Linked DNA regions of Homo sapiens. The protein of the gene in region 1 binds, or shares a complex with, the protein of each later gene. Each region holds a gene or a part of one and is shown in the gene's direction. Other genes may lie near its edges.

What was found.
Region 2: the proteins of GNB1 (region 1) and KCTD5 are in contact, whole or in part, in a cryo-EM structure (PDB 8U7Z), measured with the Homo sapiens proteins. Residues at the interface, in NP_001269468.1 of Homo sapiens: Arg52, Gly53, Leu55, Lys57, Tyr59, Gln75, Asp76, Gly77, Lys78, Thr87, Asn88, Lys89, Val90, Ala92, Pro94, Leu95, Arg96, Ser97, Ser98, Trp99, Met101, Leu117, Gly131, Asn132, Val133, Arg134, Val135, Thr143, Tyr145, Gly162; in NP_061865.1 of Homo sapiens: Val157, Arg159, Val160, Leu161, Gln162, Cys163, Gln164, Glu166, Glu167, Gln170, Met171, Thr174, Met175, Ser176, Asp177, Trp179, Ser190, Tyr191, Val205, Lys207, Leu209, Glu219, Ser221, Lys223, Ala224, Leu227, Gln228, Arg230, Gly231, Ser232.
Region 3: the proteins of GNB1 (region 1) and CALCR are in contact, whole or in part, in a cryo-EM structure (PDB 8F0K), measured with the Homo sapiens proteins. Residues at the interface, in NP_001269468.1 of Homo sapiens: Thr47, Arg52, Phe292, Ala309, Gly310, His311, Asp312, Trp339; in NP_001158210.1 of Homo sapiens: Arg174, Ser175, Arg404, Gln408.
Region 4: the proteins of GNB1 (region 1) and CRHR2 are in contact, whole or in part, in a cryo-EM structure (PDB 6PB1), measured with the Homo sapiens proteins. Residues at the interface, in NP_001269468.1 of Homo sapiens: Arg42, Gln44, Arg46, Arg52, Phe292, Val307, Ala309, Gly310, His311, Asp312; in NP_001874.2 of Homo sapiens: Arg142, Ser143, Lys372, Arg376, Asp379, His380, Ser382, Val385.

Annotation. Positions count from the first base shown.
Region 1 is NC_000001.11:1,804,073-1,811,092, reverse strand, and holds part of GNB1 (guanine nucleotide-binding protein G(I)/G(S)/G(T) subunit beta-1), read left to right. Parts: intron 1-4,554; coding exon 4,555-4,618; intron 4,619-6,511; coding exon 6,512-6,674; intron 6,675-7,020. UniProt on the Homo sapiens protein: Guanine nucleotide-binding proteins (G proteins) are involved as a modulator or transducer in various transmembrane signaling systems.
Region 2 is NC_000016.10:2,692,512-2,699,531, forward strand, and holds part of KCTD5 (BTB/POZ domain-containing protein KCTD5), read left to right. Parts: intron 1-3,423; coding exon 3,424-3,532; intron 3,533-5,394; coding exon 5,395-5,486; intron 5,487-7,020. UniProt on the Homo sapiens protein: Its interaction with CUL3 suggests that it may act as a substrate adapter in some E3 ligase complex. Does not affect the function of Kv channel Kv2.1/KCNB1, Kv1.2/KCNA2, Kv4.2/KCND2 and Kv3.4/KCNC4.
Region 3 is NC_000007.14:93,571,723-93,579,421, reverse strand, and holds the start of CALCR (calcitonin receptor isoform 2 precursor), read left to right. Parts: upstream 1-4,697; 5' UTR 4,698-4,730; intron 4,731-4,915; 5' UTR 4,916-5,133; intron 5,134-7,699. UniProt on the Homo sapiens protein: G protein-coupled receptor activated by ligand peptides amylin (IAPP), calcitonin (CT/CALCA) and calcitonin gene-related peptide type 1 (CGRP1/CALCA).
Region 4 is NC_000007.14:30,672,448-30,679,467, reverse strand, and holds part of CRHR2 (corticotropin-releasing factor receptor 2), read left to right. Parts: intron 1-7,020. UniProt on the Homo sapiens protein: G-protein coupled receptor for CRH (corticotropin-releasing factor), UCN (urocortin), UCN2 and UCN3. Has high affinity for UCN.

The DNA of each region.
Region 1 (7,020 bases):
AAAAAAAAAAATATATATATATGTATATATATACCCACAAACATGCGCATTGCACTCCCGCCTGGGTGACGGATGGAGACTCTGCCTCAAAAAACAAAACAAAACACAAATAAAGCTACATGAGAGGCCAGGCACCGTGGTTCACGCCTATAATCCCAGCACTTTGGGAGGCTAAGGCGGGTGGATCACCTGAGGTCAGGAGTTTGAGACCAGCCTGCCCAATATGGTGAAACCCTGTCTCTGCCAAAAATACAAAAGTTAACTAGGCTTCATGGTGGGTGCCTGTAATCCCAGCTACTCAGGAGGCTGAGGCAGGATAATCGCTTGAACCCAGGAGGCAGAGGTTGCAGTGAGCCAAGATTGCACCACTGCACTCCAACCTGGGTGACAGAGTGAGACTCTGTCTCAAAAAAACAAACAAAAAAGAAAACTACATGCAAGGCCCACAATGATTACTTGTTATGTATGTATGTATTAATGTATCAGATGTACATTTGTAATATGTTTATCAATATATTTGTACTAAAAGGCAACTTTTTTTTTTTTTTTTTTTTTTTGAGACTGGGTCTCACTCTGTCGTCCAGGCTAGAATGCAGTGGTGCGATCCTAGCTTACTGAAGCCTTGAACTGCTGTGCTCAAGCAATCCTCCTGCCTCAGCCTCCTGAGTAGCTGGTACCACAGGTGCACATCACTGTGCCCAGCTAATTTTTAAAAAATATTTTTTGTGGGCCGGGCGCGGTGGCTCAGGCCTGTAATCCCAGCACTTTGGGAGGCTGAGGTGGGCGGATCACGAGGTCAGGAGATCGAGACCATCCTGGCTAACTCAATGAAACCCTGTCTCAACTAAAAATACAAAAAATAAGCCAGGCGCGGTGGCAGGTGCCTGTAGTCCCAGCTATTTGGGAGGCTGAGGCAGGAGAATGGCATGAACCCAGGAGGCAGAGCTTGCAGTTAGCCGAGATCCTCCAGCCTGGGTGACAGAGCGAGACTCCATCTCAAAAAATATATATATATATTTTTTTGTGGAGACAGGGTCTCCCTTTGTTGCCCATGTTGGTTTCAAACTCCTGGACTTAACCAATCCTCTTATCTCAGCCTCCCAAAGTGCTGGGGTTACAGGCATGAGCCACCACCCTCCCTCCTTTGAGTAAAATGAAGGGCATTAGGTGTTTTGATTTTTGACAGCTACTTTCAGGGTCCTGGAGCCTGTTAGCTTGCTTCCTGGCCCTTGCCTCTATGTTCTAGGTGAGTGGCACCTCAGATAATTGATTTTTGAGTAGGTAAAGGCACTACTAGGCAACGTGAACCCAGCTTTCCAACAGCTCCCTGACCCGGGACTAGGAGGCATGTCTTCTCTCACCTTCTGGAGGATCAGTGGACAGCTTACGTGTCCCTAATCCCTCTGGAAGTCAGCAGTTATTAAGCTCTCTGACCGGGAGACCTCTGTAAAGGTGATCCTCCTAATCTAGGAGGATGAGCTGCTTTAGATCAGCTCTGATACTCGACAGAAAGTCTCAGAAGGGCTGGGCAGAAATAAAGCTAGAGTGGGAACATGATACCATTACGTAGAAATAATTTTAAATGTTTAATATGTTGATGACAACCTGGATTGAGAAGTTTGCTTTAAGAATTGCAACTGAAGGCTGGGTGCGGTGGCTTACGCCTGTAATCCCAGCCGAGGCAGGCAGATTGAGCTCAGGAGTTCGAGACCAGCATGGCAAAACCCTGTCTCTACTAAAAATACAAAAAAGTAGCCAGGCATGGTGGTGCACACCTGTAATTCCAGCTAATGGGAAGGCTGACGCACGAGAATTGCTTGCATCTGGGAGGCAGAGGTTGCAGCGAGCTCCAGCCTGGGTGACAGAGTGAGACTCTCTCTCAAAAAAAAAAAAAAAAAAAAAATTGCATCTGAAAAATAATAGGATGGGAGCCTGCACTTAGTTTTTAGTTCTGTGATAAATTTTGTAATAAAGTGCAGGTGAAAAGGTTTTTATTTGTTCTTAAACTCATTGACACCTGTATCAAAACATCTAGTTTGATATTAAAAGTGTCAGAGTTATCAACAAAACTTGAGAGAGCGTTACTCCAGCTTTAGGTCAGCTTTAAGAAGCCACATATGTTCACAGCTGAAATAGTTAAAACCTGTGTTTTGAGGCGCTGTGGCTTATGTCTGTAATCCCAACACTTTGGGAGGCCAAGGTGGGCGGATCACTTGAGGCCAGGAGTTGGAGACCAGCCTGGGTAACATGGGGAAACCCCATCTCTACTAAAAATACAAAAATTAGCCAGGTGTGGTGGCACGTACCTGTAATCCCAGCTACTTGGGAGGCTGAGGCATGAGAATCACTTGAACCCAGGAGATAGAGGTTGCAGTGAGCTGAGATCACACCACTGCACTCCAGCCTGGGTGACAGAGCGAGACTCTGTCTCAAACAAACAAACAAACAAAAACAAACAAACAAAAAACCTTGCGTTTGATAGAAACTTTAAAATTAAAAATCCTTATACTATCATTTACCGTACTGACAGATATCCCTGCATCAAACAGTGGAACCTTCTTGCTCTTCCTTGAAAACAGCATTCTGTGCTACAGGGTTCCTTAGGACCTCTCATAAGCAACTGTGGTTCCCAGGAGTTACCTTTCACCCACCTTACTTGCCTGCTAAGGTGAAATTCTTTTGCTCCTTATTCATATTCTCCTTTGTAGTATGGAGCTCCTTTTCAACATGTGGATTCCGAACTGAGCACAGTTGCCAGAGCAAGGAAATAGTTATGAAAAAATTCATGGTCGGGCGCAGTGGCTCAACGCTTGTAATACCAAAACGTTGGGAGGCCGAGGTGGGCGGATCACCTGAGGGTCGGGAGTTCGAGACCAGCCTGATTAACGTGGAGAAACCCCGTCTCTACTAAAAATACAAAATTAGCTGGCTGTGGTGGCGCGTGTCTGTAATCCCAGCTACTTTGGAGGCTGAGGCAGGAAAATTGCTCAAATCTGGGAAGTGGAGGTTGCGGTGAGCCGACGCACCATTGCACTCCAGCCTGGGCAACAAAAGCAAAACTCCATCTCAAAAACAAAAAAAAGAGGCCGGGCGTGGTGGCTCCCGCCTGTAATCCCAGCACTTTGGGAGGCTGAGGTGGGCAGATCACGAGGTCAGGAGATCGAGACCATCCTGGCTAACATGGTGAGACCCTGTCTCTGCTAAAAATACAAAAAGAATTAGCTGGGCGTGATGGTGGGCGCCTGTAGTCCCAGCTACTCGGGAGACTGGGGCAGGAGAATGGCATGAACCCCGGAGGCGGAGCTTGCAGTGAGCCGAGATGGCGCCACTGCACTGCAGCCTGGGCCACGGAGCGAGACTCCGTCTCAAAAAAAAAAAAGAAAAAAAGAAAAAATTCGTGATAGTTACTGGTCTCTGCTCCCGGACCATGCGCAGTGGTGCTGTTGTTTACCAAGCAGGTGAGGAGGGAACGCCTCCTTTGGTTTCTAGGAGACCTTGATTCCAATTTTAGCTCAGTCTGGGAAATTTCATGGGGTATTTTGGGTGAGAAATGTTTCATGAATTTGGAATGTCTAAAAGTGGTTTGTTCTTTCTGTTTGTTTTTTTTTTTTTTTTTTTTTTTTTTTTTTCAGTCAGGATCTCGCTCTGTTGCCCAGGCTAGAGTGCAGTGGCGCAATCTTGGCTCACTGCAACCCCCGCCTCCTGGGTTCAAGCAGTTTTCCCACCTCAGCCTCCTGAGTAGCTAGGATTACAGGCATGCACTACCATACCCAGCTATTTTTTTGTGTTTTTGTAGTGGAGACGGGATTTTACCATGCTAGCATGAGGCCATGCTGGTCTCAAACTCCTGTGATCCACCTACCTTGGCCTCCCAAAGTGTTGGGATTAAAGACATGAGCCTCTAATTTGATTTGTAATGAAACCAAACAGAAACACTTATGAAATGATGTCAGCCTGTCTCAGCTGACAAAGGGAATGGGTGCCAGGGGTGATGTGGCCTGCATTCGGTTGGGGCCAGGCATCTCCACTCTCAACTGTGGTCTGTGACAGTGTTTTTGTTCATGCTTTGAAGTTGGTCTGACATTTAGAGCCTTCCTTTCCTTTCTTTCTTTCTTTCTTGAAACAGAGTCTCACTCTGTTGCCCAGGCTGGTGTCCAGTGGCATGATTGTGGCTCACTGTAACCTCCGCTTCCTAGGTTCAAGCGATTCTTCTGCCTCAGCCTCCCGAGTAGCTGGGATTACAGAGACGCACTACCATGCCCGGCTAATTTTTGTATTTTTAATAGAGACAGGGTTTCGCCATGCTGGCCAGGCTGGTCTTGAACTCCTGACCTCATGTGATCTGCCCACCTCAGCCTCCCAAAGTGCTGGGATTACAAACGTGAGCAACTGTGCCCGACCAGAGATTTTTTTTCTTATAAATAAGTGGCTTTGTCTGAAGCACATGTAACATGGGAGCACATAAGCCACCAGAGTCTGGGTTTTAGTCTGTTGCTCTTGTACACTTTCTGTGTTGTGCGGTACTGATAGGTTTGCTTTTGTCTGTCCCTCCAGGCTTCTCGTCAGTGCCTCGCAGGATGGTAAACTTATCATCTGGGACAGCTACACCACCAACAAGGTAGGGACTGGAGGATTCCCTTCCTTGAAAAACCAACCCAGGAAACAGGGTTTTAAGCTCTGGATTCATTTTGTTAAATCACGTAATACAGGATAGGGAAGGCAGCAGCGGCAAGCTCTGTTTGTTAGTAGTGAAGTTGCGCAGGTGAGATAGAAGCTGAGTCACGTGCCACCTGTCACGGTCTCTTCCTCTGGACCAGGCACAGTTGTGCTGTTGTCCGTCATCTCCTTACCAAGCTGGTGGGAGCTAAGGACCTTCTGTGTTTCTAGGAGACCTCAATTCCAGTTTTAGCAGAGTCTGGGAAGTTTCATGTTTTATTTATAGAGTGCAGAAGTATCACTTTTCATTCAGTTACAAGTTTTTAGAAGAGATCATCTGAAAGACATCATACTTTAAAGTGTAATTTATGTTATTTTCAAGACTTAATCCAAAGTGTATTGTTTTGAATAAAAAGTATTGTCATTGGTCCAAACATGTATGTAAAAGATGTAATTCAGTTTATTTTACTAAAGAATACTAAATGTGTATAAATGATTGCATTAATTACAGCAGATCTAAAACAGTGGGAGAGATGTGGCAGGGTAGATTGTAGGAATGTCCATTTTGGTTATTCCATAAAAATCTTTTGTTTTCGGCTGGGCGCCGTGGCTCACACCTGTAATTCCAGCATTTTGGGAGGCTGAAGCAGGTGGATCACCTGAGGTCAGGAGTTTGAGACCAGCCTAGCCAACATGGTGAAACCTCGTCTCTACTAAAAATACAAAAAATTAGCCAGGAGTGGTGGCAGGCGCCTGTAATCCCAGCTACTCAGGAGGCTGAAGCAGGAGAATTGCTTGAGCCCAGGAGGCAGAGGTTGCAGTGAGCCTAGATCACGCCACTGCACTCAAACCTGGGCAACAAGAGCGAAACTCCATCTCGAAAAAAAAATTTTTTGTTTTCAGATGAGTTCATAGCCATTTGACAGGATAATGCAGTGTTTTCCTTCCAATACGTGTGGGTTTTTTTGTGTTTTTGAGACGGAGCATTGCTCTTACCGCCCTGGCTGGAGTGCAGTGGCGTGATCTCTGCTCACTGCAGCCTCCACCCCCCTGGTTCAAGCGACTCTCCTGCTTCAGCCTCCTTGAGTAGCTGGGATTACAGGCGCCCACCACCACACCCAGCTAATTTTTGTATTTTAGCACAGACAGGGTTTCACCAATTTGAGGCCAGGCTGGTCTCGAATTCCTGACCTCAGGTGATCCACCCGCCTTAGCCTCCCAAAGTGCTAGGATTACAGGCATGAGCCACCGCACCCGGCCTGTTTGTTTTCTTTTGAGACGGAGTCTCGCTCTGTTGCCCAGGCTGGAGTGCAGTGGCGTGATCTCAGCTCACTGCAACCTCCGCCTCCCGGGTTCAAGTGATTCTCCTGCCCCAGTCACTCAAGTAGCTGAAACTACAGGCATGCGCCATCACGCCCAGCTAATTTTGGTATATTTAGTAGAGACATGGGGTTTCACCATGTTGGCTAAGCTGGTCTTGAACTCCTGACCTCAGGTGATCTGCCCGACTTAGCCTCCCAAAGTGCTGGGATTACAGGCGTGAGTGACCGCACCCGGCCTAATGTGGTTTTGATGAGTGGGCAGCACTACTGTTAAGACTCCACCTAATCATAAGTTGTGACTTCAGTAAAACTGGACTGTGTGGATTGAATTTGAATCCCATGTGCAGCACTGGACTTCTCATTAAGTATGCTTCACCTGAGTGGCCACATATGGGAATCGCTCTCTAGATAATTTTGGCTCTTATTTTGTTCTGTTACCTCCTTTGCAGTGAAAGTTGGAGATGAGAAAATCCTGGTGTCAGTGTTGTTTTTGAACATAAAGTTGTTTGCATCATCTGTCTTTCTGTCATTAGGTCCACGCCATCCCTCTGCGCTCCTCCTGGGTCATGACCTGTGCATATGCCCCTTCTGGGAACTATGTGGCCTGCGGTGGCCTGGATAACATTTGCTCCATTTACAATCTGAAAACTCGTGAGGGGAACGTGCGCGTGAGTCGTGAGCTGGCAGGACACACAGGTACCTGTCCTTGTTCATAAGCTTCAAGTGACACAAGCTGTTTACCTGGGGTACATTATATGCTTTGGATACTCACTTTTTATCAATCATTTTTTAATTAATTAATTAATTATTTTTTTTGAGGCGGAGTCTCGCTCTGTCACCCAGGCTGGAGTGCGGTGGCGTGATCTCGGCTCACTGCACGCTCCGCCTCCTGGGTGTTCACGCCATTCCCCTGCCTCAGCCTCCTGAGTAGCTGGGACTACAGGCGCCCACCACCACGCCCAGCTAATTTCTTTTTTGTATTTTTAGTAGAGACAGGGTTTCACCGTGTTAGCCAGGATGGTCTCGATCTCCTAACCTCGTG
Region 2 (7,020 bases), on another chromosome or scaffold:
TTGCCAATTGTCTCTGTCCTCTTTGTCCTCTGCCCTGCTCTGGCTGAGCCCAGGGCTCTTATGGACCCAGAGGGAAGGAAGTGCATACTAATTGGTTCATGGGCAGGCCCGGAAAACGCACCACAAGTCCCCACTTTGGTCCCCGGGACTGGCAGCCCGGCCCCAGCCTTCATGCCCTCCCTGGCCTGAAGGTGGGGCCTTACCGGGGACCTACCCCCTTCTTCCCAGGAATCTATCTGCCTCCTGCTGCCATACATGGCGCCTGGGCTCGGCCCCAACTTTGCTCCAAGATCGGAGCAGGCACCAACAATAGGAGTAAGCCAGGCAGTGAGAGCAGGCACTTCTGAGCCTGCAAGGGCCCGGCAGAGGGGCCTTTCTGGGCCCCCAAGAGTGCAGGGATGCCTGAGGCTGTGGTTTGGGCAGCTGCAGTTGTGGGCCTGCCTGCTCCGTGGAGCGGGAAGCCCGGGTCTGCAGCCATAGTTTGGGTGGGGCGAACCCCAGGGCTGCAGCCCCAGGCAGCCCCACGCAGATCCTCCTCCCGAGGCCCGGGAACCTGACATCTTCAGTGGGGTGGGTGTGATGGCTGTGCCACTGGCTGGGTCCTCACCGCTGGTGCCACTCTCACTACCCACCCCAGGCCCCCGAAGCACAGCCCCAGCTCTGCATCGGGGCCCCTCTCCACCCAACCATGCTGCTCTCCTGCCATGCTGAGGGCAGTGGGCTATGGTGTGGGGAGTGGGGTCTGTTCGCCTCCTCCCTGTTCCCTCCCTGCAGCGGCAGGTATCACGTGATGGCAGCAGCTGCACCAGTTGGCCTGCTGCTGGCATCACCGCACTGGGCCAGCTGTGGCCAGACTGAGGTCAGGAGTTCCTTCAAAGCATCAGCCACAAAAGCTGCCTCCTAAAGGGGGTGTTTAATGGAAAAGCCAGCCCCGCCCAGTGGTAGGAGTGGCCAAGACACGGCAGCGGCCTACCCCTGCCTGCCCGTCTTGAGGCCGAGCCCAGTGCCAGCACGCTCAGTGCCCTGCCGGCTCCTTGGACCTGTCTGTGTTCCTCTGTCCTGCTGTGCAGTTTCCGCCGATGGCCGTCCCCACCCTGCCCTCCTTCCCTCCTGCCTTCATCCTTCCAGTTGCAGGGCTGGGGTTGCCTCGTGTGTCTGGGGGCGCCCAGCACGCTTCCTTCTCCTCTTGCACCGGCCCAGGGCCTGAGAAGCACATGGTGGGTTGTCTTGGCCTAGAGGTCACGGCTCAGTGCCCAGGTCCTGCCACAGGTTGGGTGCCCTGGCACTCATGGCGGCCCCGAGCTACACGAGCTGGTCTCCCCCACCTTTTGCTCGTAAAGAAACTGAGGCTTGGGGTGGCCTGGCTGTGAGCCTGCAGTCTGACCACTGAGGCCAGGCCTGGAGGCCTCCATGGCTGACAAAGGGGTTCTCTGGGGTTGTCCTGGGCAGAGGCGAGCCTCCGCCCTATCTGATCTTTCCTGACCTCCTGCCAGCGGTCTGTCGAGGTAGCAGTGAGCCGTGAATAATTCCTGAGCTGAGCGGTGTGCGGACGTCACGCGGCCAGCATTCTCTCTGTATGGGGGTGGGGCAGGGAGGAACCCTGGACTCGGGTGGCAGCACTGGCCGCCTTGCCAGACTTGGGCCCCTTTGTGGGAAATGGTGTCCATTTTTTAGCAGTTGCGCAGGACCGCCCAGCGTCCTCTTCCCGGGAGCTGGCCCTGTGGCCCCGGCCCTTGCTTGAGAGCTGTGGAGTCTGGAGGGCTGGGGAAAGGCAGGGCCAAGCCCAGGAGGCAGGGCCTGTGGGGTGGGCAGCTCTGGCTGGAGTGTTCCGGGGGAGGGTGGGGAAGGAGGATAGGGTCAGGTCTGTGTGGAGCTGGGGTCACCCTAAGGAGTAGGGGGGCCGCCGAGGCTCCGGGTCCAGCGCCCCCATGCCCGGAGCCCTAATTGATTTTATCTCAGCCACAAAACTCAGTCCCTGTGATCTAAAAAGAGCAGGTTGTTGCAGGTTTGCGGTGGTGGACTTTGGGAAAATCTCTTGAGACCACTAGGTCTTAGCACCCAAATGGCAGAATTTGTCCATGGATGAAAATAGGGTCCTAGCGTGGCCCCGTGCTTTGTGGTGGAGACACCTTCGGCCTCCCCATATCTGCGAGCCTGGCATTCCCGTGGCCAGCGCCTGCCCATGGCCCCACAGGAGCCACCATCTGGTGAGGGGGCTGCTCCTGCTCCGAATGGGGTGTGGGGTTGCTTCTCCAGCGCTTGGCCCTGGGCCTCGCCGGGGAGGCTGCCGGTGTTTCTGAACGGAGGCCTCAGCTCCCCGGCCTCCAGGGCACCCGCAGGCACCAGCCCCTGTGGGAGTGGCTCGCAGGTGGGAGCAGGACCCTTGCAGGCATGTGGGGGGAGGCAGGAGCTGCCCCAGCAGAGCCACACGGAAGGTCTGAGTCTGTGTAGAAGACAGGCTGTGCCAGCTTCGCAGTCCCCCCATCAGATGTGTAGCCGACAAGACAGAAACTGCCTCTTCCGTCTCCCCCATGGGGGCTGCCTGGGGCGTCTGAGCCCCCGTCCTGTGTTCACGGCCGGGCCACTGGGGCTCTTGTGCTTTGTGGAAGGGGCTGCAAGGTGTGATGTGTGGGGCACCCCGGGCCTCAGAGGGCATCTGCCCACATTGAAGTGGCCGTGGTAGCAGCAGGGGCAGTGCCTCTCAGGGGTCCCTCCACCCAGGTGCGTGAGGACACCTTCCGAGGGGTCTGTTTTGTAAACATCTCGGCCTCCGTGAGCGCTGAGCCGGGGCGAGGGCTCTGTGAGGTGAGTGATGATCTTGGGGAAAGCCCCGGATGCTGTTGAGTGCCGGTCACTGTGGCCTCCCTCGCTGCTGGCTCCCGGCCTGTTGGGCAGCCGCCCCTGCTGAAAGGTGCCCTCTCCACCCCTGGCAGGAAGCCCCTGTCACCCTGACCCCCGGTTCCTGCATGTAGGCTGCGGAGGACCCGGGCACGAGGAGCGCAGGCCCAGGCTGGTGGCCATCAGAGGTGTCCTTCTGAGGCTGAGCCCTAGGCCCCTGCCCTGCCCGCGAGGGCATCTCTGGGTGAGGTTTTCGTGTGTGTTTTCCTAGAGGTCTTGCAGTTGTGAGGACAGAGGTCCAGGGCACAGTGGGCTCACCTTGGAGTACGCAGAGCCAGGCTGCCTCCGTACGGAGAGACTTAAACTCACTTAGACCTGGGGTGGTGGCTGGTCAGGGTTAGGCTGTAGGCGGCAGGACGTGGCCACACCGTCAGGGGTTTCCTGAGATGCCGCAGGCTCAGGTGTGCTGGGGAGAGGCCTGGGTAACCTGGTGCCTCTGAAGCCTCCTGAGGTGGCCGGGCCTTGGTGGACCTGCAGGAACCTTCGGCTTCTCACGGAGGACTCACCGTGCTCTGCTCTCTTTAGGATGAAACAGGCGCCTATTTAATCGACAGAGACCCCACCTACTTTGGGCCTGTGCTGAACTACCTGAGACACGGCAAGCTGGTGATTAACAAAGACCTCGCGGAGGAAGGTAAGCCGAGTTTTGGGCACAGGTGCCTTAGCTTTGGGGGCAAGGGCCCGACAAAGGTGCCAAGGGCTCCACTTAAGACACAGATGCCTGCAGCCTGGGGCCCCAGGGAGGAGCAGGCCCTGTACTCTGAAGCTGGGGCCGACGTTCTGGTGCTGAGGCCACGGGCAGCGGCGCAGCTGCCGGACAGGGAGGCCTGGGGACCCTGTGGGTGTGGGGTCCTCCCTGGCTGCAGCTCCTTGGAGGGCTCCCTCTGTCCAGGCTCCGGCTGGCGACACAAGGGGTGTGAGGGGTTCCTCCCTGCTGTGACTGAGGTGGTCTGAGCGGGTGTGTGAGGCACATGCCCGGTGATGCCCACGGCGTGCTTCAGGGCCTGGTTCCCTGGCCTGCTCTCCCTCAAGGACAGCCCAAGGGTGGTGAATGTCTCTGTGCCATCACCTGGACTGTGCCTGCTGCTGCCAGCTGCCGTGTTCCATTCTGAGTGATCGTGGTGCAGGGACGGCGCCCACACGCGTTGGGCCCAGGCTGGCCTGCCTGTGTGCTGCGGTGCTGGCTTGGCTCAGAACAGCTCGAGGCCTCGCCGTGAAGGCTGAGGGTTTCTGGGCACCTGCGTGCGGGCGTGGCCCTGCTCCCCCGGGTCCGTGTCTGCGCATCGGTCTGCACTGGGCAGCGTCTGACTCCGTTTCTGTTCTGGGCCTCTGGGCCTCGGCATCTGCCTGCCTCCTCCGAGTTCACGCGGGGCGTGGAGTGACGGGGGCTGTGGCCCAGCCCTGCCCCTGCTCTGAGGCTGTGAGCCATGATCCCCACTCCTGTCTCTTTGGCAGGGAATGTCTTTCACATGTACTCTCTCTGGTCGCTTGGGCAGCCGCTTGTGTTGTCGTGGAGCCGCTCGAGTCGAGGCTTCGCTTTATCTCATTCTGCCCCTAGTGGGATTGGCTCAGAAACGGGCGCTAGACACAGACCAAGGCCCTGCCGCCCAGGCTCACCGGTCTGCCTCTATCCCGCCCCGATGCAGCCACTCACGCCCTGGGTGCTAGAGAAGGGGGCTGTGCGGGACCCATGCGGGGCCGGGAAGCCTGTGTCTCTGAGGCCCTCGTCTCCTTGTCTCTATCCTGCGTGGCCCTGTCCCATGTAGGTGGCTGGGTGTTGTCCTGAGCTGCCATGTGCCATATGTGGGTTCCTCTGGGGTCCTGGAGGAATGAAGACCACCCATGAGGAAGCCCTGAGGCAGGACCTGTGGAATCTGCTCTTAAGGCTCTTAAGGGAGGTTTGCAGTCCCTAAGTGCGGCACATTACGGATGGCAGTCTTTGGGAAGAGCTGGAAGTGACCCTCTCAGCCAGCCACAGTCTTCCCTTTGAATGGGGTCAACTGAGGTGCCAGGTGACTGAGACATATGCACAAGGCCGCAGGCCTGAGCCCCACACAGCACCCCACCCAGTGGCGTGGCCATGAGCAGGTTCCCAGCAGGAAGCGTCGGCCTCCAGGCTTGGAGGGAAAATGCCAGATCCAACCCCCAGCATACCATGGCCTCGGCGTAGACATACGCTGAGCTGCATGTAAGCAGCGGCTCCATACCTGGCGGGTCACTGGAGGTCACTCAAGGTTACCTGGGGTGACCTGAGCTGGAGGTGTTCAGTCCACACATCGGCCCTCTCACCACGGCCCCTCCGCCCATTATCCCAGGAGCCCTGCTGGGCTGACACGTCTGCAGGAAGCCTGTTAGGTCGGGGCCTGAGCAGCTCCCGCTGGGCCGAGCCATGGGCCCTCATTGCAGGGGCAGGGGCAAGGGCAGGGGTGGGTGTAAAGCGTGGATTCTTTGGTTTAGTTTGGTCTGGTAAAGACAATTTATTTTTCCTTATTCCAGGAGTGTTGGAGGAAGCAGAATTTTACAATATCACCTCATTAATAAAACTTGTAAAGGACAAAATTAGAGAACGAGACAGCAAAACATCGCAGGTGAGACAAATGACTGAGGCTGGAAGCTTGTATGGCTGGTGTGAAGGAAGGGCTCCCCTTTACTCCCCCGACCGGCTGCCTCCCAAATAAGTCCTGCGGTCTGGGGCTCTCCTACCCTGAGACCCTTGTCCTCTGTCACTGCCCCAGTGCCTGCCAGCTCCGTCTACCCGGCTCTCCCCAGGGTCCCTTGAAGGATCCATTCATCCTGCCCGGCCCAGACTCTGGGAGCCCCCAAAGGATGGCTCTGAGGAAGTTGGGCACGGGAGACGTGTGTAGGGAAGGAGGGCCCCATGAGGGCCGGTCGGGGAGACCCTGAGGTGGATGGCATCTGGTAGGGAGCAGAGGGTGCCAAGGGCCTGCAGCCAGCATGGCTGGAGGGAGACAGCAGATGGGTCGTGTGGGTCTGCGCAGGCGCCAGAAGGACCTTGGTTTTATTGGGAAGAGGGGCGGCTCGCCACAGACACACCTCTCACAGCTGGCACGGCCCTTCTGCAGCCAGGGGAGCCCAGGTTGTTGGTGGGCTCTGCCCAGTACCTCCTGTGGAGGGGCCACTGCTGGGCCTTGGGCATCAGTCCCGTCCCTGAGAGCTGAGCCCGCCCCCCCCACCCAAGCTCAGCTCCCTTGAGAAGGCACCAGGAGTGGGGTGTGTGCCGCACTGTGGCCGCGGCTGCCATCAGAAGTCTCGGTCCACGTAGAGCCCTGGGCCCTGTGCAGACGCTCCTAGCCTGGCCGCTCAGGGCCGCTGGCCACCTAGCGACTTGCCCAGTTCCCCCTCCTGCTGGAGCTCCCTTGGTGCCACTGAGGGATCTGGAGGGGCTCCTTGTCTGTGGGGCAGGAGCTGCGTCCCGCGCCCCGGGTCACCTTGTCCAGTCTGCTTTTTTCCCTGTTGTGTGACCGGGCTGTGTGGGCACTCCCTGCCTCAGTCTACCTACCTGTATGACGCAGGTGGGCAGGAAATGGTGCAGGTGGGAGAGTCTGCGGTCCAGCCTTGCTGTGACACAGTAGCATCTCACTGTCTTGCAGAATAAAGCAACTCGGGCATGTGACCTCGAGGCCACTGTGTGCCTTTGTCACTCAGGCATCCCTGGCATGAGTCACCACCTTAAGGTCAGGGACCCAGGACCTCTGAACCCCTTCTCACTGCTGCGTTTCCGTCCAGCCCCGTCTGCAGCCTGAGTCCTCCGTAGTGACTGTCCAGGATGTGGGGCCACCCCGCCCACTGGGGAGCAGCTCCATGCAGGCGGGCGGCCCTGGTGGCTCACCATCACTCCCAGGACCACAGCTGCCTGGAGGGGCACAGCAAGCGTGCCAGGCAGGTGGGGGATTAGGAGGTGGATGGAGTTTTAGGAAGCAGCTCAGCCTTCGGGAGGCCCAAGTCCAGGCTGCCGCGCAAGTTCAAGAGCCTTTTTCTGGTAGCTGGGAGCGAGCTTCGTCTGGCACTGGCTCTCAGGGCCCTGCTTGCCAGAGCCTTTCCCGACCGATGAATTCAGGGCTGCACGGTTGCTGCGTGCGGAGCAGACGTGGACGCTCTCGT
Region 3 (7,699 bases), on another chromosome or scaffold:
ATAGAGCTTTTCCTGGCTATCCTAGAATAGCATTACCCCATGCCTGCCTCTCAGTTCCCTGTTAATGATATTTTAACATTGTCAGTATCTGAAATTAACAATTTACTTCTTATTTTGTTTGTTACCTATCTCCCTCTTCCCACTAGAATATAAGCTTTGAGGCCGCAATTTTTCATTATTTGTTGAATGAATTAATGAATGAATGTCTGCGTACATTTGCTTCTGCAGTATTTTTTCTGGCTCCTGGGTTTCCCTTTAGAATTTTATTTAAAATATAAGAAATGGATATTTCTGAACTTCATCAGAGATGGAGCAATTAGTTTCCACTGCTGCTTTATGGTGTAAGTCCCTGCCATCTCCTCCTACTCTGAGTTATTTACACATTAAGTTAACAGTTAACCAAAGTGAAGTTTATGTAAGTACAATCTGGAAAGACACTTCCTAGTTCAAGTGGAATTTGTTTTTTCCATGCCAAAAGACACGTTCTCTAGAGAAACACAGCCGTGTCACACCCTTGGAAAGATGAGGAGAGAAGAGAGACTTACAAGTACCCCAGCTCCTGTTTCTGAAAGACAGGTGGAAAATCGAAGCAGGACACTTCCTTCAAGAGAGCATGATTTATCAGGTCAAAGTTCGAATTGTTTTCAAAGGAAAACATTTATTTTTCACTAAGGCAAATTATTATTTGCCCTGTCATGGTGAGGCCTGTAAATCTAGGAAGAGTAATTATATAAAGAATAATTACCAGCTGTTGTCTATTTGGAAGGAGACTACAAGAGGAAGAAACAAATGTTCTTGAATAGACTGTGGGCTTCTTGAGGGTAGGAGCTGCATATTGTGCTTTTTGGGTCCCCCATAAGCGGCTAGCCAAGGGTGTTGTGAAATTATGTGGTGTTAAATATGTACTAAATTACCAACACATAAGCATAACGGATTGAGCTGGATTTCAATGTAAGGAAAACTTTGCTGATAGGGAGCTATTCAAGTTAACCATTGGATTCCTGAGAGAGTCCAGAAATTTTTTCTCTAAATTCCTGTTAAAAAAAGAATAAACTCTATTTAACCTTACAACAATTTTTTTCCAAGAAGAACTAAATGACTTTTTTCAGTCTCTACAAAGTGTGACCTCCCTCACATTAACCATATTTAACAGGAATAGGTATTAATAGAGCTAGTCTTTAATAATGGGCAATCTTCCCTCCATTCACTGAAATTCAAAACTTTAGTGATTTTTAAGGAAAAGTCACTGAATTCTCGAACCATAAGTGTCCAGAAAGTGGTATGTATGGTTCAAACTCTGGCAAACCTTGCTTGGAAAGACAGAGTTGAGAGGTCAGATAATCCTTTGCTAGTGGCAGAACTTCACACCCTCAGCAATGTAGATGGAGGGTTTCATAATTGAAGTGGAGTTTGCATTGAAAAGTCTGTAGACAAGATCCACAGAATACTTCTCCCTAAATTAGTAACTGTCCAAAGGGGAAATTTTCTAAAGAGGAAGAGGGACAGAGAGAAAGGGGCAAAGTATCATAAAGACAGGGGATTTTAAAATAAATAATCAATAAAAGTACCAGGAATGTGTGACTACCACATTTTAAGATGCTTATTTTATGAATGCCCCTTTGATGAACTAATTTCATTTGAAAGCTTATTTGCAAATATAAGGTATTCCACTTGAAGAATAGCTTATTCTAACCCAGTGTCTTTAGGTATTTTTGTGATCTACAGAAAGAAATACATTTTACTTTGCAATTTCATACACAGAGATAGAGAGAGAGAGAGAAATAAGACAAGTTTCAAGAAACCACTCTTGTGCTTTCAAATGGCGATGAACTCTGATATTTTCTATCCTATTCCACTTCATTTTTTAAATGTTACTTATGCCCACTAACTTGATTTCAAGATCCAGTAATGGGTCTCATAACATTTTCAAAACAATGCCAATTCCCCTTATCAGACCATCCCCATGTTAACATCCACCCTCCAAAAACTTACCACACTGTGTCCATGTAGGAAATACTGTGATAATATTAAGAAAGCAGTAGACTTAAATTTCTGTAAAATCCAAGTGTTTCCAACAGGTACATAACCCCTTTGGTGTTCAATAAATATCTGTTACTGACAAAGTCAATTTAATCTTCTTAGGGGACAAGAGAGCTTCATCCCTGATCTTGCTTCTGCTGTGTCACCTTCCCTGAAATATTCTGCCTACAGAGAACTCTCATTGTTTCCCCCAATATTGTATCTAACACAGTTCACACTTTAATCAGCTGAGGTTGCTTATGCTTAGACCACAAACAGTTTAAAGTTTTATGATACACCCATGCCATTTTTCTCAATAACTTTTAGACTTTGTTTACATTATGGTTAAGGGCTGCATCCCACATATATTCATTAGATTTATAGAATCAAGCCCATCCTGCTCTCAGAATACTGGTTATCAATATCAGGTAGGCTGCCCTAGGATTTAACCTCCAGCGGAAAAATCTCCTTGTACTTGTTCTATCACACAATGCCGAGGGCGGCAACACTTTCTACTCAGCAATAGTCTCCCTGAATCATTGTTATTTCAGTGACTTGGGCTACAACCTGAGAAATTCTCAATGTTTGGCCCCAGCAGTTGACCATAGGAGACTCTCAAACAACTTTAATATTTCTCTGCTGTTTGCACCAAAAGAAGGTAATTAATATTCCAAAAGAGAATTCTTAAAGGAGGTCATGGTCAAGTGTTGGCTGGTCAGGAGCAGTTGGAAAGCAGGGAGCTATTGAACTCAAGACAGATTGAGCCCAACCCAGCACGGAGTGAAGATTCCTATCTAAGTTCTGAATTCGGAAGGGTTTCTTATACAGGCTTTGTTTAAGTTACTGTGTCTGTGTGTGTGTGTGTGTGTGTGTGTGTGTGTGTGTGTGTGTGTGTGTGTGTGTGTGTGTGTATGTTCCTTTCAAAGCCTCCTTGTCTCCCAGTTGCCCAGCCTCCTTTCCTAGTCACATTTCTTACTGCTAACAACATCATTCTCACTTATCCTGGGAATGAAGGGACTGTACAATCTTCCTCTGCAGTGAGGCAGTGCCTTAGGGTTTGAATGCACAGTGAGTCACACACAGCCCTCTGGGTCACCAGACTGGAGGTGACAGGGAAGGGGGGAGTATATAGAGGAGGGAGCCTGGAAAAACAAAATCCCTGGAATGTTGGGTGGGAGAGCTGATCTGATCCTTGAGTCTGTCCTCCACTGGATCTCCTGAAAGCCTCAACCACACAAATTAGGGGTCCCTGTTGTCTCTCTGGGGTGGGGTATGAGGATTCAAAATAAAACAGGAGCATGCAAAATAAAACGGGGACATTTTTTGCCTACAGTCACTGATGTTTCCATGGAAGAGCTCCAAGGATGGTTGGGTGAGGGCTGCAGTTCCATTCACAGGACACCTCCTTCTCTGTCACCCGGTGTTGTCCCGTGTGCTTATGAGAACCTAAGATCACCAGGGAAAGTGTGCTGTCGCCGTCTGGCTTTCTTCCCCTCCCATTAAATGATTGCTATTATTTCTTTTGCCAAGGAGACAGTGTTTAGTAACCTCGACGGTGCACGGCCACCTTGTGGTCCCGGGACGCACCGGATGCTGTTTTCTTAGTCCAACACCGCCTAAACAGAGTTAGGGAAAAAAGTGTTGGCTCCTGCCTTGATCCACCCAGTTGTGGGCTAAAAGAGGTTGAGGGTGACTCGTCCTTGGAATCAACTTGCCTGCCTCCCAGGGCGTGCCTGCCAGCCTCCGCTGCGCCCCGCCTGGTATTGGATTGTCCCGGACTCCTGCTGACATCGAGGGCTTTAGGGGGAAAGAAGAGGAGTCGCAGTGTCCGGCACCAAGTCAGGCACCCCATATCCCCGTCTTCCCTCGCCATCCTCTCTGTTTTCATTCACCCTAAAACACTGTGCCCACCAGCAGTCCCCTACACGGAGGGCACTCTTTCTCCAAATCCAAGTTATGCCTCCAGCCTACAGCCGCCCAACTCCGGACGCTTTCCCAGGGCTTGCCTGACCCCCAAGGTGTCTCTTCTCATCTCCTTCCTCTCAGCACTTTTTTCCTTTTAGCACCCCAGCTCTTAGCCAGCCGTCTTCCCACGTCCTCACCCCACTTTCACTACCTAGCCCACTACCGACCCTCCCTCCACAGGCTCCCTAGTGCTGTCCCCGGAGTGGCGGCTGAAGAAGCCAGGGTCACAATGTCTCTGGGATAAGGTTCTTGTGGAAACTCACCTCCCTCCGGAATTTGCATTCTCCGGGGAGGGGACAGGGCTCCCAGAAAGCTGTCTCCCAGTCCAGACTGTCGCCCCCCTCTCCCTCCCTACTCAAGGTCTAACTCGGGTCCCTCGCCTGCTTCCTGTGTTTACGCGGCGCTTTAGTCTCCCGGACTCGCAGGGTGAGCCCCAGCCCTGACTGGAGCGAGACAGCAGCCGCGAGCGCAGCCCCACTCGCGGGCCGGGGCGACTGGGGCTGGCGCGAGGCGCACGGAGCTCACCAGCTCGCCCCTCCCTCTCCTGGGACAGGAGGGGGCTGACTGGGGTGGCGGGGTCCGGGAAGGGGGGCTGGCTCTCATCAATTCTGCTGCCACCTCCTCTGCCGCCTGTCGGGAGGCGGGCGGGGGTGGGGCGGGAGCGCAGGCTAGGATTGAGACTCTTAAGTCAGGAGAAGTTTGCGCACAGCTTCACAGCTGGGAGAGCGCAGGAAGGCGCCGGGAAGGTGAGCCTCCTGGACTCTGGGGAGGTAGAAAGCAAGCCAGGGGAAAGAACAGTTGTCTTTTAGCTGATAATACAACCTAGACTTGGGTCTGAACCACCTAAGACAGATTTAAAGTGTCAGAAAACCAGGAGAGGGGCGGAGAGGGAGGACTGAGACTAACGCAGTTTGCTCTCGCATCAAACTAGGAAAGCCAGCCCACCAGCGTCTGGGTGGGCTGCGCCGCGCGGCTGGCGGACCTTCCCGGGTTGGAGAAGTGCGCACGTCCGCACCTCACCCTGCGGCTGACATCTCCTGCCCAGGAGATGGGCGCTGAAGCTTGAGCGCCTGAGTCCCTGGAGCCACACCTGCGAACACCCTTTGCTTCTATTGAGCTGTGCCCAGCCGCCCAGTGACAGAATTCCAGGTAAGGAGCGTTTGGAAATGAGCGGGACTTAACGATTTGGGGTGTCCAAGGGATGTTTAACAGTGCAGGTGCTATAGGCACCTTGCTTTTTGATTATAGAAATGTGGTTTGATTGCGGTGCTTGTGGTTCTCATGTAGGGTCAGCTAGGTCTTAGATGCTTTACTTTACCCTTGTCAAAGAAAAAAGAAAAATAGGTGTCCTGGGAAGAGCCAACAACTTATGGTTTCGTATTGAAGAATCGTTTGATTTCTTGTGACTTTTACTATGTTGTTCATATCAATTTTCCCTCAAAAGTTTTATTCTCCAACTTATTGGGTAGGAAAATTACGGAGGTTAAAGTTGTGAATTTTCCCAAAGGGTGTTTATTAACTGACAAACATATAATATCAGCATCTATAAGATGTGTCATGGTTGTTCTGGATATTGGAAATGAGCACAGTAGTGAATGGAGTTGCTTGTTAAGTCATGTTTTACAGAGAATAGTTTTCCAACAATCATTTATGCATAGCAGCCATTCTTCACACCTATTAGGAAAAATATGTTGTGTGCATAGTTTCCAAAAGAGTACTCTTTTTCATGATGCTCTTCCCAAGCCTGGGTGAAAGACATCAAGAAAAGCTGTAACAAATTAATTCCTTTTCTCAAAACATTCATTTTCCTTGAGGTCCAAGTCAAAAATCAACAATACAATTGAGATTAGTAAACTATCATACAGACTTTATTTGGCAAATCTACCTAAGAAAAGTTTCATATGAAAGCTTTAACCTAATACTATGTGACATATGCAAGAAGAGAACGCAGGGTTTCACTTGCCGATCTTAAGGAGACCCTGACTATTTCCAGGCTGTGGTTAACCGGAATCAAGTTATCTATGTAAGGCTATTTGTTGAAATTATTCGGTGATTGAAGGTGAAATGTTCAAAATAAGTCAAAGTTTTACAATGTAGTTCTTAAAGCTAATCTTTAAATTACAGAGCGTCCGAGTTTAAGTCTGTCTTAAATGATCATAGAAAGCAAATATTTTATGTATTTGGGCCAGTTGACTTACCATTAAGGACAAAGTAGGAATGCTTTTAGTATTATGGAATTTATAAAGTGTAATTTCTAATAGGATATTGCTAGCCTATGAGTTCAGTAGTAAAATAACTCAGCTTTAAAAAGTTGAGATTGCTGGTTATACACCAGTATTATGAGAGAAACTAAGATGATTAGATTTGTAAAACCTTTACAGTTTAAGTTGGTATTCTCAGTGGATACTCATTTCTACTCAATATTTTAACATAACTCAAAACATCCATCAGCCAGGATTTGTTCTGGTTCAATGCCTCTAACCTGTAGTTTATTTTATGAACTATAGCCCAAGAATAATATCTGGTCATATTATAAAATGTTCTAAGTTTATTCATTGGCTACATCAACACAATAAGTAAACAAGAAATCTTCATTATAACCAGTTTATAAGAACACATAGATAATCTTGGAGTTGTTTTGTTTCATGATTCTCAAAGTTAAAAAGAAATAGCTGATATAAATACGTCTTCTGTTTCTCATTTTGAAACTGGAGGTAATGATTGATGGTGGATGGAGAGCATTTGCTCTAATCAGTTGAAGAAAGGGAGCTAACTATTAGTTTAGTTGTGCCATGGCAATTCTGTTCTTGATGAACCTCTCAGACTCTGTCAATGTTAACATGAATGGAAATATTATCTACTGTTGGTTTTTATTAGAGTCCTAGTGAAATGGAAATAGGAGACCGGTAATGGTTTCAATGATAATCTAAATCAGTATTCTCAACTCGGGCTGCAAATTAGGGTTAATAGGAGAACTTTCAAAAAATACGGATGCTCAGCCTTACCCCAATTCAATCAAATCAGAATATCTGTGGAAAGGGTCTGCAATTTGATGTATTTCTTTAGGTGATTGTAATATGCAACCAGGATTGAGAGCCACTGACCAAGAGGGTTTCCACCAGACTTGGTAGAACTCATTGATGTGGGAGGCTTTTGATAAAAATAAATGTTGTTTGTTATATCGCTGGTCAAATAGTTTTTTCTTTAAAAAAAAGAAACATATATGTATAAACATACATATATATGTATAACTTGATCTTACAATTAGAAGAAAAATATTTTAATATTTGATGTTAGATATTTAGACCGTAACAGCTTCTCGGAAAAACATTTTTTATCCAGAAAACAAGCTATTGAGTTTGAAATTGATCTGCCCATCCAGAAAATGTTTTAGTAAATGAACTCCAGCTTTAAGAGATGTTGAAAATAATACTTGATGAAACATACAATTTCATCTCCTTTTGCTTAAGACCTGTATACTGTGTAAAGTACAAATACGTACCCTTTTGAAAGAGGAGAAAGAGGAAAATAGCATCATTCCCCTTGGCACACTAACTACCATATACCCGGTGCCAATGATAATCTAGTACTTTTACAAAAAATATGTTTTAAGCTAAGAGTAGCCTTGTGAGTTACAAGCTATTATCATTATTTTATGTATGAGGAAATTGAGGACCCATTAGATTAATGAACTCGCTCAAAGCCACGAACCAAG
Region 4 (7,020 bases), on another chromosome or scaffold:
ATAATCCCACTCGCCCACACTCCCTCTGAGATACATACTGCTTTTATGCCCATATTGCAGGCAAGAACACTGAGTCTCAGACACATGAAGTAACTTATTGAAAGTCCTAATCAGCTCCTATGCACCAGTGCAGGCAGGTGAATCCACAGCCCTCGCTATTAACCATGGGGCAGTACTCCCTCCACAAGAGGCATTCGGTTTGCGAGGAGAGCTTAGAGGTTTGGAAAGAAGACTCATACCTCCGGCCTGGAGGATCAGGGAGGACTTAGCCCTCTGAGCTGGACTTCTGGGGACAGGTTGGATTTTAGCAGGTGAGTGTAATAGGCACAGGAGAGGCCCTCTAGGCTGAGGGGACTGAGCAAAGGCAAGGAGACAGGCTGGGCTTTGTGCCTTGGGAGGAGTGTGTTGTATGGAGAACAGGGAGTAGGAGAAAGAAACAATGAGGCTGGGGAGGGGCATGGAGGTCAGGTGATGCAGGGCATTCTACAGGGCTTCACCATCTGGAGAGGGAGCCTGGGTGAGCTTGTGAGCAGAGAAGCTCAATTTTGGGAGCACACTGTCCTCTGGAGGGAAAGGAGAAGTAAGGGGATTTCTGCACAGACCCAGGTAGACCGCAGGCTGTAAGAGCAAATGAGGTTGAAGACGCCAGCAACCTTGGGCATTTGAAATTGACAAGATATGGTGAGAGATGGCAAGGTAAAGGTTGGGCACACAGGAAACAGCTGAGCACAGTTGGGGATGTGTTGACTTTGAGGAGCTGGAGGGACAGCTGAGTGGAGATGTTCAGGAAGCAGCTGGTTGGGTGGGGGAAAAGCTCAAGAGAGCACCAAGAGTGGAGATAAGGCGTTTAGAAGTCCTCAGGATGTGGGGTTAGCAAATAGCTACAGTGTGTGAGTTTGGGAGGCTGGGTCAGAGCCTTGAGCCATCTTACCCAGAGTTATTTCCAGATGCAGCAGGGCCAAGGGAAGGGAAGGGACTAGCGCATGGCCACACATGTTAGTCAGTGGCAGAGCCAAGTTAAGCACACGAGTCTCCTTGGGTGTTCTCTACACAACCTGTGCTGGCGCTTCAGTGGCTGAGCTTCCACATGTTTGTACTGTGGTTTAACTCATTTAATCCTTGCACCATCGAGTGACAGAGACATGGCATTATCCTCATTTTACACATGGGGAAACTGAGGTGTGGAGCAATGAAGTCACTTGTAACAGAACAAGGATTCAAACCCAGGTTCTGCTGCCTTTCAAAAAGCAACTCTGCTAGGTTAAGCAGAGAAGAAATTTTTTAAAAAGATATTGGGGAGCTTATGGAATCACTGAGTGGGCTAGAGAACCAGATTTGGGGCCCCAAGCCAAGAACACAGGGCAGAGCTGGCCCTGTGAGGGGACCTCCCTCTCCCTGAAAGGCCCTGCCAACACCACCAGCCCTGGCCACCACTAGTGGCATGATCAAAGATCACTGCAATCTCAAACTCCTGTGCCCAAGCAATCCTCCTGCCTCAGCCTCCCGAGTAGCTGAGACTGCAGGCACATGCCACCACACCTGGCTAATTTTTAAATTTTTTGTAGAGTTGGGATCTTGCCATTTTGCCAGAGCTGGTCTTGAACTCCCAGACTCAAGCGATCCTCCTGTCTCTGGCTCCCAAAGTGCTGGGAGTATAGGCGTGAGCCACTGCACCTGGCCAACCTGGAGTCTTAAGCTTCCTGCAGTTATCTCTGGAGAGGCTTTCTCCCTGTCTCCATCTGGGGGCCTCCAGTTCACTAATTCCCTCGGGTAGGTGCATCTGATGGGTGGGGGAATATGTGGAGCCCCAAATCCCATGCCAAAGCTCTGGCTACAAGGGATCCTGGGAAGTAAGGATCTGGCATTTTAGCTCTAGGCGGGGAGGTAGCCTCGGTCTTACCCCAGGATTCTCCGAACCCAGGTTCAAATCCTGGGTGGCTAGAAACAATCCTAAATGTCCATATACAATTTAATTGGGGCAAGTCTCATCCCTTTTGTGGGCCTGTCTCCCTGTCTGTAGGCCGAAAGGAAGTGGATTAGCATGGAAGTGGTTTGGCCAGAAGTGGGGCACTTATATTCCATTTTCCTCCCACCTCTCCCCATTCCACACGGACTCCTCTGAGCCCATCTCTGTGTGTACATCTCTGTCTCTGTGTCTCTCTCATTGTCTCCCTGTCTGTTTCTGATTTTCTCTATGTGTGGTTCTGTTTCTGGGTGTATGTTTCTGTCTTTCTCAGATTCTCTCATTTTCTACCTCTCTCTCTCTTTCTCCATCTCTCCCTACTGCCTTCTTCATCCCCCGACTCCATCTCCAAACCCACTGTCTCCCCACTCCCATCCCTCCTTCTATCTGCCCTCCTCCTGCACCTCATCTTGCCTGTCCCTACGGTCCTTTTGGCTGCAAAGGAGGGTCTTGCCACCTCCCTCCTGGCCATGGTCCATTTTCCTTCTGTGGAACCACTAAGTGCAGCTTGGCTGAGCCTCAGCCTCCTTGACCTCAAGCTCCGCAATGTCCTACTGGGAATGGCTGGGGTCATCTGTACTGAGGCATCTGCCAGGACAGGGGAAGAAGGGGCATCCCATCTAACCTAGCCACATGGGGAGGTTAGGGGTCCCCACTTCCCAGAACCCCATTCTAGAGACATGCTTAAGCACTGATTGTGTTACAATGGAAACACATAAGCTGAGTGGTCTCCAGCCAGAGGGGTCTCTCCCATTGGGTCTGCCTGCTTATGCAGGAATCCCTTCTTCAGCCCTAAGAGTCAGAGGTGATAAGAAAGGCTGAGACCTGCCCTCAGGAAGCCCCAGGCTGCTTATCAAGGAGGCTTGTGCAAATCAACAGTCAGAGATCGGGAAGAGGGGCTTGGTGGACACTGGGACATTCCTGGGAGGCTTTCTGGAGGGAGTGGGGGTAAACTTTAAAGGTCTTGGAGCAGTTGGGATGCCACATTTGTTAAGGACAGGCGCAGTGCAGGGGTGCAAGCCTCAGGAGGACCCCAGATAGACCCTGCCCTCTGGGTTGAAGAAGTAGAAGCTGTAAATCCGGAAACTCAGGTCTGCATTCTCAGACTCCAGCGAGACCTGATCCCCCCTGACTCTATTCCATTCTCCAAGGGCCACAAGTTACTCCATGTGTGAGAACAACTTCCCTGCTGGGAGAGAGGGAAGGTGGGACAGGCATGGCCATCACAGAGGTTTAGCTAAGAAAAGAAGGAAGGAAGAGAAATAGAGCAGAAGTGGATGCCCTTGTGGCCATCCAGACACCCCAGAGCTGCCCGGCTGCAGAGCGCTCTATGTTCCGAGTCCAGCCTTCCCCTCCCCACTTAAGGGTAGGAAATGACTGGCCAGGAGAGGGAAACACAGCTGCTCAGAGTTCTACAGCAAGTCTGGGCCCTGATAGGCCTCTGCTGGCTCTGGGAACTCCTGGCTTCTGCTCTAGCTTCTACCCACCTCTGCATGCATCTTGATCTTTCCTGTCTCCTGCTCTCCCCAGGAATCCTCCAGCCACCTGATCGTCTTGCTCAGGCTCACCCCTTATTGGGGTTCTGAGTATTTTACCCTTTCCCCCAGAAAGAATTGAGGAGCCTAGAGACAAGCTTTTCAAAGATGCATAAGACCTGAGCCTGCCTTCCAGGGGCTCCTGTTCTAGGAAGAGTGACAGACAGGCAGACTCTCAAAGAGAACTTTTTGATATAGGCTCCCAAGTAAAATAGCACAGTGAAGACAGTCAGAGCACATGGAAGGGAGTTATTCCAAGAGTAAGGGAAAGTAAATTTGGAAGACTTCATGGAGGAAGTGTTGTTGAACAGTGCCTTGAAAAATTGAGCTAATGATGTGTCAGATGGAAGGGAGGGTGGGAGCGGAAGTGGAAGAGGAGGGAGGGAAGAATAAGCCAGATCATGGAGGCCTCAAATGTTGGACCAGGGCATGGGCCTCGATTCTGCTGGCTTTAGAGACAGCGGCTGCTTGTCCGTAGCCCTATGGCACAGGACCAGAATACTCTGGAAGGATACTGCTTTTCAAAATGTGCCATCTAAATCTCAATCAAGGGCTGGCTGGGGACCTGGGCCTTGGCCCTTTCCTCTCCTCCCACCTGCTCCTTAAGTCAGAGGTCCCAGCATCCTTCCCTGTGCACTCCTTACCACCAGTGCCACAGCAGAGCCTGGAGCCCTGAAGACGGGCTGAAGGAGGAGCCCCATCTCAGTGATCCTCAGGGAGCTCCCCACAGGGCTTCTTGGCTGGGCCCCAGGTACAGGCATTTGGGCCCCTCTGACTGCCCACCCTCACCAGGTGCTTCAGAGTCAGGCAGGCGGTCCCTTTCACACACAGCACCTGCCAGGAGAGCAGCTGGGGCAAGGGAGAGTGGGAGGAACCTGGGCTCAGATTTAGCAGGGCTGGATCTAAGTCCTGGGTTTGCCATGACTCACTGAGGGACTGGCAGGCCCTCCTTGTCCAAGTCCCAGTTTTCTTATCTGTGTGAAGGGGACAGAGAACATGCTGACCTCGTGGGGCCATGGCACACAGGGGAGATGATGCTGCTTGGGGCTCCCTGTAGACAGCTAAGGCATTGTCAGCAAGGGGAGGGGAGTTGAAGGTGGCCTGGGGCCTGGAAGGAGGGGCCATCATGTCCTTGGGTAGGGGAAATCCTGCTCACACCAAGAATGGCTATCCTCATTCTGGGGTGGTGGTCTCCTGCTATCTCTGAGAGCCCCCAGAACTCTGTGGCTTCTGGGGATGTCCTGGGAGGGAGGATTCTGTCTATCTAGATTGAGAAGGTCTGGTACCTAAAAGCCTGTAGAGAAAGGCAGCCCCTTGCCCCCCTGGAGGGATGCTGCTGGCATCCTGCCAGCCAGCTGTCTTCTCCCTGCATTACTTCATAGGAACTAGGAACTGAGAGCCAGATCTAATCCCGGCCATCCTACTGACTGCTTTTCTCCCTTTGGGCAGGTGGTCTCCCCTCTTCAGACCTCAGTTCATCTGCACCAGGTGGGTGGAGGGCTTGATGAGTTCTAGTGATGTTTCTCAGTTCCAAGGCAGCTTCTGCCACAGGGGTCCTGTGTTGGTCCCCTCCCCACTTTCCTCCACAGGCTGGCGTCATGGCGACGAGCCCACTGAGTGTTGCTAGGATGGCTGGAAGGAGGGAGCCCTGTACAGTAGAGGCGGGAGCATGAGGTAGGGGCCTCCTCCCACTGCCCCTCTCTGGGGAGGGCAGAGCTTACACAGTGAGCTGGGTTCCACTCCCCCTTCCCTTTTTCATAGACCCAGTATGGTCTCCATTAAACTGCTCAGTGCCTCTATGACTCAGTTTCCCCACTGTCTCCTGTAAGTGTGCTTACAGGTCCTGCTTAAGGATGGCAGGGCACCATGAGTGAAAAGTCCTGTGGAAATAGGGAGTTGAGGGTCTCTGAAGGTCCAGAACAGGCAGTCGAGGCTCAGAGAGCTGTGTCCATATAACACTAAGAAATGGAATCCAAGTTCCCTGGCCTGAATCCCAGACAGCACCAGCAAAGGGCCCTGGGGATGCCTTTCCCACCCAGTGGCTGGGGTTGGCAATATTAGACTCCCAAACTCAATCTAGCACTTCTACGTCAGTCTGGGTCTGAGCTTGGGTGAACATCACCAGCTGCCTGTTCCCCTCTGACCACCAATTTGCTGTGATCGGATCAAGACAGAAATATGCCAGGTGGGCCTCAAAGTTGGTCAGTCCTCCTTAACCTGCAGTGGCCTCCAAGCAATGCAGGATGCTGACTCAAGGAGATGCACCTCGTTTGGGAAGCTCAGGAAAACCATGCTGTTAGTACTAGGACTGTACGTCTGACCACCCCAGCTCTGTCCACCTTCCCCAAAAGTCTCTTAACTGGGGATGAAAAGCAATCCACTCCAGGAAGTGGAGGCCAAGCTGGGAGGAGACATTGATTGAGAGGTTTTTCCCACAGAAAGCAAGAAAGATGGCCAGGCATGGTGGCTCATGCCTGCAATCCCAACATTTTGGGAGGCTGAGGCAGGAGGATCACTTGAGGCCAGGAGTTTGAGACCAGCCAAAACCACATAGTGAGACCCCGTTTCTACAAAACAAACAAAAAAATAACAAATGATCATGGCATGGTGGCACATGCCTGTAGTCCCATTACTCAGGAGGCTGAGGCAGGAGGATCACTTGAGTATAGGAGTTCAAGGCTGCAGTGAGCTAAGATCACACCACTGCCCCCCAACCTGGGTGACAGAGTGAGACCCCATCTCAAAAAAAAAAAAAGTAGGTAAGAAAGGTGACTCAAAGTCATGGTCAAAGATTTCTCAACTAGGCCCCAGGCCAGACAAGAAGATGGCTGGATCTGGAGTGGCCCAACTACAGGCAGTAAAGGGAACTGAGGGTGGGATATCTGGCCCCTAAGGTATTCTCTTCTGAGGATCTGGACACCAAGTGGTAATGACACTGAAGAGGTGGCATAACTGGCTGCATCTGCTGAAACACAGGGTCACAGGGAGAGTCTGTCTCTCCTAGGTACACCAACTCCAGGGTCTCCCGTGAGGAAGCGTGTCCCAAGGGAGAGAGATCTTCTGCCTCTTCATGGTTGAGTGACCCCAGATGTGTCAGTTTCTCTCTTCTGGTCCCACCAGACCAAATGCAGAAGTTGTCTTCCTTCCTAATTCCCAAGGAGATGCCTGATAACTCAGTTTCCAACTTGCTTCCCTTGGAACAGTCAAAGCTTTCATGCCAGGAACCTGGAGAATGCTGCCCACAGGTTTGCTGTTTGAGACTGACACCCCTCCCCCATGTGGGGTTGGACTGCAATGTCTGCAGTTTTGGCAGCTGGGTCAGCCTACCCATGGTGTCTTTGTGTGAGACCTTGCTTCCTCCTGCATGTATGTGTGACTGTTTTGTATTTGCCATGCATCTTGGTGAAGCATGGGCATACAAGGTGGCAGACTGTCCTCCTGGCCCACTCTGAGCCTCCTACCTTCAATGAGTTCCCAAGTAACCTAGGAAACAGCATCAGCTTTGGTCCATCCTGAGATCCT